2 separate regions of the Homo sapiens genome follow, and region 1 is linked to region 2. A link means that fine-mapping ties the variant in region 2 to the expression of a gene that starts in the linked region. Tissue or cell type: skin. Region 2 holds a variant in brackets; the other region holds the start of a gene. All regions are shown on one strand. Distances are between the middles of the regions.

What was found. PIP is the estimated chance that this variant, and not a neighbour inherited with it, causes the effect.
Region 1: SLC1A2 starts here. The variant in region 2 is fine-mapped to the expression of SLC1A2 in skin (TwinsUK, PIP 0.95).

The regions. Positions count from the first base shown.
Region 1 is chr11:35,416,447-35,421,446 of GRCh38, reverse strand. It overlaps SLC1A2 (solute carrier family 1 member 2), which reads left to right and starts at 1,889. Exons shown (of 11, transcript NM_004171.4): 1 at 1,889-2,497. The coding sequence starts at 2,481. It overlaps SLC1A2-AS2 (SLC1A2 antisense RNA 2), which reads right to left and starts at 2,390. Exons shown (of 2, transcript NR_186310.1): 1 at 2,340-2,390; 2 at 445-911. RefSeq lists an enhancer at 1,743-2,243.
Region 2 is chr11:35,388,514-35,393,513 of GRCh38, reverse strand. All of the region lies in intron 1 of SLC1A2 (solute carrier family 1 member 2), which reads left to right. Among named protein-coding and RNA genes, the nearest start is that of SLC1A2-AS2, 28 kb to the left of the region's middle. The variant AG/G (reference allele first, on the strand shown) is at 2,851.

The sequences.
Region 1 (5,000 bases), 28 kb before region 2:
TAAAGTTAGACAATTAGACTGTAAAGTTTGTATATGTGACAACTTCAGATACAAAGACACACACTTACCCTTGACGGGGCTTAAGAGGAGAGTGTCAAACATAATACCAAAGTGAAAGAAGATAGCTCTTCATCTACAAATTATTTTTAAACACATTTACCAGGTTAAACAATAACTAATTTTTCGGAAGAGAAGAGTACCCAAAGTCAAATGCCCTAAGACGAAGAGATGCTTATGGCATTTTTTTTTAAATAAAGAAAATGCAAAGTTAGAGTGGTTCTGAAGGAACCTAGGATGAATAAGGTACAGACATGATTATTCTAATGGTGCAGACAGGATTGAGAGAGAAGGGGGGAGGGGAGAGATGGAGAAAGGCATGGATGGAAGATGACGTTTGGATTCAGATTTTGGAAAGGAGAGTAAAGGAAGGAGGTAAGCAGAGATTTATTTTTTAAATTTTATTAATGTGTTTTCCCCTCTTTTTCTTGTTATTTTTCTCATCTGTCTGTTCATACTTGGATATTTTGTCCAATAAACTATCTTCTAAGGACTCTGAAAATGCACTGAATATTTTTGGAGGGTTTACTGGGTGCCAGACGCCACTTTAGGAGTTTTACATATCCTCTCCATTTCATTTAGTTCTCTTAGCACAGAGAAGTGGGAGAAGATAGTCCCATTTTACAGGTGGGATGAAGAGAGAGATGGAGGAATTTGCCCCAGGTTACTCAGCTAGAAGGTGGTGAAGAACTCAAGCCTTCGGATATCAGCGCCTGGCATTTAACTACCAATCGGTCCTGCTGGGACTCCGGCTCCTCTGGCACCATCCCCGGGACCTACTCAGAGAGTTTGCACGTGGCCGGTCGCGTTCCATCGTCTAACAAGGTCCAGCACAGCGCAAATCCGAAGATCGTCTACCCCGGGGAAAAAGAGAGTCTGTTTAATTCTCCTGTGGCCCTCCAAGTGAGTTCTTTTGGGTTCCATTGCCTAGACGAGGAAAGTGAGGCTTTGCCTGCTCTGCGCTCACAGGGTCGGCAAGTAGTGGGACCCTAGGTTCCTGCAGTATTCCAGAGATAATCAAAGCTGCACAGGTCTCGTCATTTTTATGCAAAGGCGTCCGGAAGGCTCGAACTCTCCCTTGCACAAGCCCATCTGTCTCTGTGCGCCGCCCCCGGGACACGGAAGCAGGCGGCGAGCAGCGCCGAGTGGGTGGAGAACCGTCCCCCGCCACTCACCCCTCGGCCAACTCTCCGCGCCTTCTCAGCCGGCACCCACGAGGCCGACCTCTCTCGGCCTAAAAAAAAAAAAAAAAAATCCCGGCCTCCCCTGCACCCCGCCCGCCGCCCCCAGGGAGCTGCATTAATATTAATCTCGCTGAATAATTGAAGGCCAGAGATTTATTCGAGCTTCGGCGGGGGAGGGAGCGCAGCTGGGCCGCGTTTAGGCTGCACCACCCGCGTGTTTCAGCCGCTCGACTCCGCTGGACCTGGGACCCCCAGACGTGGGAGGATGGGGTGGGTGTGCCTGCCTGTGAGTTTGGGGGTGAGTGTGAGCTGAAGCGGGTGCTCCGGGGAGTGAGGAGGGAGCGCCAGGGGCTGCTCCAGGGAGGCGGAGACGGAGGGGCATCCCGGGTCTCCGCGCGGTCGCCTGCGCTTCACCCCGCACGGGGTGACCTGGGGCCACGCGGGCTTCAGGGGAAACAATAGCTACTCCTTAGATCCTGGGCTCCTGCCACCGGCTGCCCAAGCCTTCCCGGACGAGCGGCGGGGCCTCTTTTCTTATTTGGCTAATTTATGGCGAGAGGCTGGGGGGAGGGATGGCAGAGGAGGGACCGCGACTGGAGATGGGGGCGGGGGGCGGCGGTTAAAGGAGTTGCCCGAGGCGGCGGCGCGGGTGATGTCAGCTCTCGACGAAAATAGAGAGGGATCGCCTGCAAATCCCCAGCTCCGGCGGGGCTAAACCTTGCAATCCCTCCCTGGCCGGCGCCGAGCCAGAGCGCAGCGGCCTCCACCGCCTCCCCAGGCGCGCACACACCCGCACACGCGCACGCACGCTCACCGTCCTCTGCCACCACTCTCTGCTCCCGCCACTCGCCGCGCCCGCGAGCCCCGCAGCAAAGCACAGGTGGCAGCGGCTGCAGGGGCGCATCGCCGGCGTGCGCCCTCCTGCAGCCCTGGGCGCATCGCTCTCTCGGGGAAGCCACCCTCGGAGCCCCCGGAGCTCCCCGCCAAGCGCCATCCCCGCGGGCGGAGGGGAGCGCGGGTCGCGCGCCGTGGAGAGCCGGGACGCGGATTAGCGCCCGCAGGAGCCTCCTGCGCCCGTTGAGGCGCTAAAGGGCTTACCCCGGAGGCGGGTGGAAGGGCGGGCAGAGGCTCCTCTTAAATACCGCTCCCGGCCGCACTTCGCGCTCACCCCGGCGTCCGCTTTCTCCCTCGCCCACAGCTGCCGGATAGTGCTGAAGAGGAGGGGGCGTTCCCCAGACCATGGCATCTACGGAAGGGTGAGGGGATTTTTATCTGTACCCGCGGGAAAGCGGGGTCACGCGCGGGGTGGTGGCGCCCCTATCCGGGATGCGGATAGAGAGGCGGCGGCGGCGGGCCTCGGAGGTGGTGGCGGAGCCGTAGCTTGGCTGGGGATGGGATGGTGGGGAGGGGATTGATTTTCTTTCCTGGAGATTGCTGCTTAATCCTTTGAAAATGCGAGAGGTGGAGGGTTGTTTTATTTTGATAAAAAGGGTAAGGTGCGCTGGGGGCCTGAGAGTGTGAGGAAGAAATCCTCTTGAGGTTACTTTTGGGATTTCAAAACAATAGGGGATTGGGCATAGTGTGAGCAGACACCGGGGTAGCAGCGCCTGGAGCGCGGCGCCCCAGGCCCGAGGCGGGCTTGCAGGTGGTGCCGGCTCGGAAGGAATGAGCCAAGACAGGGCCCTGGGGCGGGGCAAGGACCAGCGCGCGCGGCCTTGAACGCCAGGTTTGCAGAGTCGCCATGGAGATGCTGGGCCCGCTCCGATCGGTCCTTGTCCCTGGAAGGCGGAATCTCCCTGGCTAGCTCTAAGGAAGGGTGGAAGAGATTTGGGTGCTTCCCGGGAGGCGGGAAAACGTGTGGTTTGGGACAAGGGCAGGAGTCGCCAGACTCCAGCGGGCAGGGATAGCATTGGCTTCCCTATTCAGCCCGAGGATCTGGAGTCGTGTCCTGCCTCCCAAGATTCCAGCTGGCATGGGGAAAGCTCCCTCGCAGTGATAACTAAAGACAATTGTCTTTAGCAAGAGACAGAAGGGGCTGCAGGGGGCAAAAGGATTCTTTGAATACTCACACATCAAAGGAAAGGTCCACAGAGTCCTTGGACCAGTATCTCCCAGAAAACTTTTTGGGCTTCGTAGAACCTGAGTGGCAATGAAAAGACTGGGCAGCTCAGCCCTTTGGTTAATTCCCAAAATTGCAGTTACTCACTTGCAAGCGATCACAAAATCCATGTTATGTGAAAAGCAAATATCAGGGGCTTCTCTGGGCTCAAGTGGTGGTGTTGGCATTTTCCAGTTTCTCCTAAGAAATTTTACCAACTCCGCAGGCTTGTTTTAGGGGAATGGATCTCTAAACAGGCTGAAGAGCTGGTATCCAAAGCCAGATCTCTAGACTGCAATCTCCAATAGAAGGAAAATATTTCTAGAACTGTCTCTCTGTCCAGGAGAAGGAATTCATTCATTTTCTGTCCCCCAGAGTCCTTCCAAAGGCATCTGGCATCTTGTCATTGCATGAAATTTTGTCTCTCCCTTTGCCCTATTTTGCAGTTTAGACTTTTTTGATTATTATTTCTCCAAAAAGATGTTTCAGGAAGACACCTGTGTACAAGGAGGGTGGTACCTTGTGCTAAAACAGATCTCTAGAAATAGATACTAGGAGCCCATATGGATCAAGATCAGTGTCTTACCATGTTTAGTTAAAAAGGCTTTTATATTAGAAAAGATATGAAAGAATTTCTGGTTGCCTTCATGGACCTTCTAGACTTATCCTTGCTTGTAAAGGCTAGGGTGGAAAACATCTGTGAAAAAGATGGATGATATTAGTCTTCCAAATCCTGCATCCAGCTCACTCCCTATTTTGATGGCCAGATAGAGAAGGAGAGGTTACAACAACAACCCCAAACTAAGTAAGTTTATTTCACCTTTGTCCTAAATGAAAGCTGTCAAATGATGTGACATTCAATGTAGAGCCAAAGTGATTTTCGGCATTTTAGAAAGATTCCCATCCAATTAATCCCATCTTTCTGCACTGTTTATGGTTAAGAAAAGATTCATCAGAGGAACTTATATTTAAGAGAAGAAAGAATTGAAAAAAGTTGAACGGCTGGGAAACAAATATAGGATCTATGACCCATTATTATTTAACAGCAGTAACTGATGAGCAGGTGACATTCTCAGAAGCCCTGGTCTTTCCTTTCTTCTTCTCTTCTTTTCTTGCAGGAGCATTTACTGAGCACTTGTTGAGTGGAACTCACATGTGAGGAACTCCGAGTTGGGGGGATACAGAAATAGTCTGGGATTTGCCTTTTAGAAGTCTAGCTCCATCCAGTCAAGGATTTTTATTAGTAAATTGTTCACGTGGACTCATGAGATCTCTTGCAACTTCTAACATCTTTGGTTAATGTGCCTTGTAAAGAAAAATTTACTAAGACTCCTCAGGCTGTCTCCTTTGTTAGCTTTTGCCCTCTAACAATATTGAAATTGTTTCCTTGAAACATACATTACTGAGAAGGAAGCAAAAATAGCAATATAGTTATATGCTTTCAATTTATATATTTTCAGTTCAACTTTGTTTGATCCAGAATGTTTGGGGAATAGGATAATATGGGAAACTGACCATTCTGGTTCACATTTATTTGGTGATGTAATTATCAGCCGCAGAACATGTTAATTACCAATTTCTAAAGAATTATTAGAAGCAATAATGACATCTTATGTTTGTTTAACACTTCACTTTCAAAGCTCATTCGTGTACCTCATCAC
Region 2 (5,000 bases):
TGGGGGATATGGGTGCTATGGGTCACCTGCAGCCATCTAGCTTTAAAATGACCGGGGAAGAGCCTCCTGCATTCACTGTGGGGAGAAGTCAGGAGCTGGGCTGGCCTGTGTCTTCAAAGTGGCAGCTTTAGAAATCAGGAGAGTCTCCTGGGACCAGCTCAAGCTGCAATAAAATGCGGTGCCATTCATGCATTAAACAGATCCTTACAGAGAGGCTGCTGCTCTGCTAGGCGTTAAGGACAGCCCTCTGGAAGACAGATACAGCCACATCTGGCAGCTGCATGGAGGCCAGCAGCCCGAGACCCTGGGTGATGATGCATCTTGGGCTTCTGCCACCTGCTAGCACCACACTCTGACCCAAACCTTCACATGGGACACCTGGCACCAAGAAGGAGGATAGAGATGTTTGAATCTAGGACCAGATACTTACTGGATTAATGACTTGGCCTCTCAGAGCTTCAGGTTCCTCATAGACTCCCACCATAAAGTAGGTATGATAGCACCTATCTTGGACGGTTGTAACGATAGTCATCTGTCATTTGACCAGTGCTGGAACATATAGGTATATAGGTGCTTGGAAAAAGGTGGCTATTTTGAAATATTCTATGATTTAAGCCCTGGTGTGCTTAATACCCCCCTGAAACACCTAAAGTTGAGACTTCAAGATGTATAAAACCTTCCAAATAGATTCATGCCACATTTATCCACCCTCCCTCTCCAAGCATACACATGCACTGCTGAATCTTCCAGAAGGGGAGGTCCTAAGGGTGCCAAGCCTGAACAGATACTGGGAGGAGGACTCGGGGCATTCCCTCCAGACAGTTTTCCCAAGACCCTCCACTGCCATTGGGAAAAAGAGTGTGGGAACCCCGGGAGTCTTAATTTAGGCAGCCAAAGGGTGGGCCTTGGGAGCTCCAGCTCTCTCAGATTTCTGGTCTGGCAAGATGGAGTATGAATAAGAAACTCAGTAAGCATTTAACTGCTGATTGACTCTGGGAATTCCCAATAGTATTCGCAATAGAGAAGGCAGGTCCCCTTCCCCCAAATGTCAGAAGCCGGCTTCCTCCGCCTACTCCTGGTGACTTCCACCGCCCTGGACACATGGGGGCGCTGCAGCCCTACTTTTGCTGGATGCCCTCCCCGTCCGAGTCCTGAAAGACCCTGATTTTCCTCTGTATCTGGGTGAGTTCACATTCTCTGTGTCTTCCTATGTAGAAATCAGCGAAAGCTCAGCAATGTACTTAGAAAATAAAACCAAAAATGTGCACCTTAAACCAGGAAACAAAAACTTACGCAAGCAATGCATTTTTTTAATTGTACAAACACTTAAAAGTATGTGTAAGCAAAAAGAATTCCAAATACCCTGTGAGAATAATATTCAAAACACACACACACACGTGCACAAACACATGGAATGGGACGATAAGGGTGATTTTTATTTATTTATCAAGATAAGGTATCATTCTGCAAACTATTTTGTTATTAGCTTTTTCACTTAAAAATAGCCCTGCTTGCAAGCAGGCTCTGTGGTGCAATGGATAGCGCATTGGACTTCTAGCCTAAATCAAGAGATTCAAAAATAGCCCTGCTAAATATTTGCAATCTTTCCTACGCTCCTTTTTCCCCCAAAGTGACTTTGGATATCCAGAGTTACCAAATCTAGTATTTGAAGTCCTTAGGTTTGAGGGTTGAAAGTGAAAGGCAAGCTGTTTTAATGAAAATTCCTAACTGAAGAGAGCGGAGACTTAAGATGCTTAAATTTTGGTCACACCTGAGCGGTATTTGTTTGCATGGCAGTTAGAAGGCAGGTAATTTGTCCTAAAACTAAAACAGCAGTTAACAACCTTTAAATTCCCTGAGGAGATCCCTTCTTCCCCAACCAAACCTGTTCCCATTTCCTTCTAGACTGGTTGACGGTCAGGTGGGCTGATTGGTTCTCCCTGCTACAGTGGTAGAATTCAGCGCTGTACCTAGGTAAGAAGGGTTTTGGAGGGTGTATGGGAAGGTACACACAGGGTAGAGATGATAGCACAGGCTTTGTGGTCAGACTGGCAATGGTTCAAATCCCAGCTCTGTGACTTCTTGCCCAGGTGGGTGGCCTCAGGCAAATTACTTAATCGCCCAGAGCCTCATTGGTAAAACAGGGTCATAAAACTCTCACAGAATTGTGACTGGCAGATTATAAGCACCCAATGCTCTTTTAGGGGTTCACAAAGTTTTTCTGCAAAGAGCCAGATAGTGCATATTGTAGGCTTTGTGAGCCATACAGTCTGTATCATAATGAGTCAACTCTGCCATTGCATCACAAAAGCAGCCACGGACAGTATGTAAATAAGCGAGCAAGGCTGTGTTCCAATAAAAGTTTATTTACAAAAATAGATGGCAAGCTGGATTTGACCTGTGGACCATGGTTGACTGACCCTGCTCGTGATCATCCCCATCCAACAGAAATATAGCAGAGGCCACAGATAGAATACTAGATTTTCTTGTAGCCACACTATAAAAGGAAAGAGAAACAGGTGAAATTAGTTTTAAGAATAGATTTTATGCCCGGGCGTGGTGGCTCACACCTGTAAGCTCAGCACCATCGGAGGCCGAGGCGGGCAGATCACTTGAGGTCAGGAGTTCCAGACCAGCCTGGCCAACATGGAGAAACCCTTTCTCTACTAAAAATACAAAAATTAGCTGGGTGTGGGGGCTGATGCCTGTACTCCCAGCTACTTTGGAGACTGAGGCAGGAGAATCGCTTGAACCAGGGAGGCGGAAGTTGCAGTGAGCCAAGATTGTGCCATTGCACTCCAGCCTGGGTGATAAGAGTGAAACTCCATCTCAAGAAAAAAAAAAAAAAAA[AG/G]AATAGATTTTACTTACCTCAATATATCCAAGTTATGATTGCTTCAACATGTAACTAATATGAAAAATTCCTTAATGAGATGGTACATTTTATTTTTTGGTAATATTTTCAAACTCTGCTGGTATTTTAAACTTATGACACATCTCATTTTGCACTGGTCACATTTCGAGTGGTCAGTAAAACGTAACCTCAATATTGCTTCTCAAACTGCAGGCCAAAACCAATTTAGTGGGTCAAGAAAGCAACTTACTTAAAAAAAATCAAATTTTAAAAATGAAATGGAGGAGAATAGAAACTATCAGGGTACACTACATGTAGGAAGGACATGGGTCGTTTCTTGTACTTTGGTGTGTGAATGCCTGTGTGTGCACGTGCCTGTGTGTGGGTGTGCGCTGAGACATCATGAGAAAAAGAAGACATCTATTTCTTACTGTAGATTGCACACAGACATGTTTGAAACTCATTACTGTACGTGCTAAAGTCAAGTGGGTTTTTTGTTTGTGTTTTTGTCTTTTAGAGCAGGCTAACTGGGGTGTTTAGCTAGTGCTTCACACAGGCTGTGCTGTTGACCGAATAAACATCCAAAACCAGCTAAACCAGTTGCTAAATGTCATAGTGACCATTTAAAAATACAAATCAAAGTTTCAAACTTTAAACTTTATTATCTCTATTCTTAGCTTTAAAGCATGCTCATTTTACAGATAGCAAACAGAAATCCGGAAAAGTGAAATACTTAAGACCCCAAAACCTTGGCTGGGCCCAGTGTCTCATGCTTGTAATCCAACACTCTGGGAGGCTGAGGTGGGAGGATCACTTGAACCCAGGAGTTTGAGACCAGCCTGGGCAATATAGCAAGACCTGGTGTCTACAAGAAAATTTAAGAACAAAAAAGAGGCTGGGCATGGTAGCTCATGCCTGTAATCTCAGCACTTTGGGAGGCTGAGATGGGTGGATCACCTGAGTTCAGGAGTTCAAGACCAGCCTGGACAACATGGTGAACTCTGTCTCTACTAAAAATACAAAAATTAGCCAGACATAGTGGCTCGTGCCTGTAATCCCAGCTACTCCGGAGGCTGAGGCAGGAGAATCGCTTGAACCCGGGAGGCAGAGGTTGCAGTGAGCCACGATCATGCCATTGCACTCCAGCCAGGGTGACAAGAGTGAAGCTCTGTCTCACCAAAAGAAAAATAATAATAAGAAGAAGAAGAAGGAGAAGGAGAAGAAGAAGAAAATACTAATAGTTAAAAACAAAACAAAAAAAAGACCAAAAACCTGAGAAGTAGTTTTGGAACGAGAATGAGGAACTCTGTGAACTCAGCCTTGAGCTCCTTCCTCACCTGCTGGGCTCTCTACCTGGGCATGTGAATGGGAAACTGGGCCAATTCACCCAGTGATTTAAGCATTGAGTCATTTTTTTGCTTGGAATATTTGAATATATGAAATAAAAGTTAAAGAGGTATTGCTTTAAAGCACTTCATTCTCTTATTGATTCTTTTATTGACTCTTCCACAAATATTTTTTTTCCCTCAGTTTTTGGTCATCTACATATTTAGGTTTTTAAAAAATTAAATTAGTTTTGTACTCAGGGGTACATGTGCATGTTTGTTACGTGGGTATATTGCATACTGGTGGGGACTGGACTTCTAGTGTACCCGTTACCCAAATAGTGAACATCGCATCAAATAGGTAATTATTCAACCCTCACTCCCAGCCCCTTTTGGAGTCCCCGGTGTTTATTATTTCATCTCTATGTCCACGTGTACCCAGTGATTAGCTACCACTTATAAGTGACAACATGTGATATTTGGTTTTGTGCTTCTGAATTAGTTCATTTAGGGTAATTCCACCTGCTCATGCTTTCTGAGCATCCGAAGGTGTATCCTGCTGGGAAACAAATGTGAAGGAGGCATAGGCTCTACATGCTCACAATCTGGGGTAGGGTGTTATCTTTCAATAAAAACATGTCTGAGTGGGGCATGGTGGCTCATGCCTGTAATCCCAGCACTTTGGGAGGCCGAGGCGGGAGGATCACTTGAGTCCAAGAGTTTAAGACCAGCCTGGGCAACATAGGGAGACTTTGTCTCTATAAAAAATACAAAAATTTAAACAGGCATGGAGGCACACACCTGTAGTCCCAGCTACTTGGAGA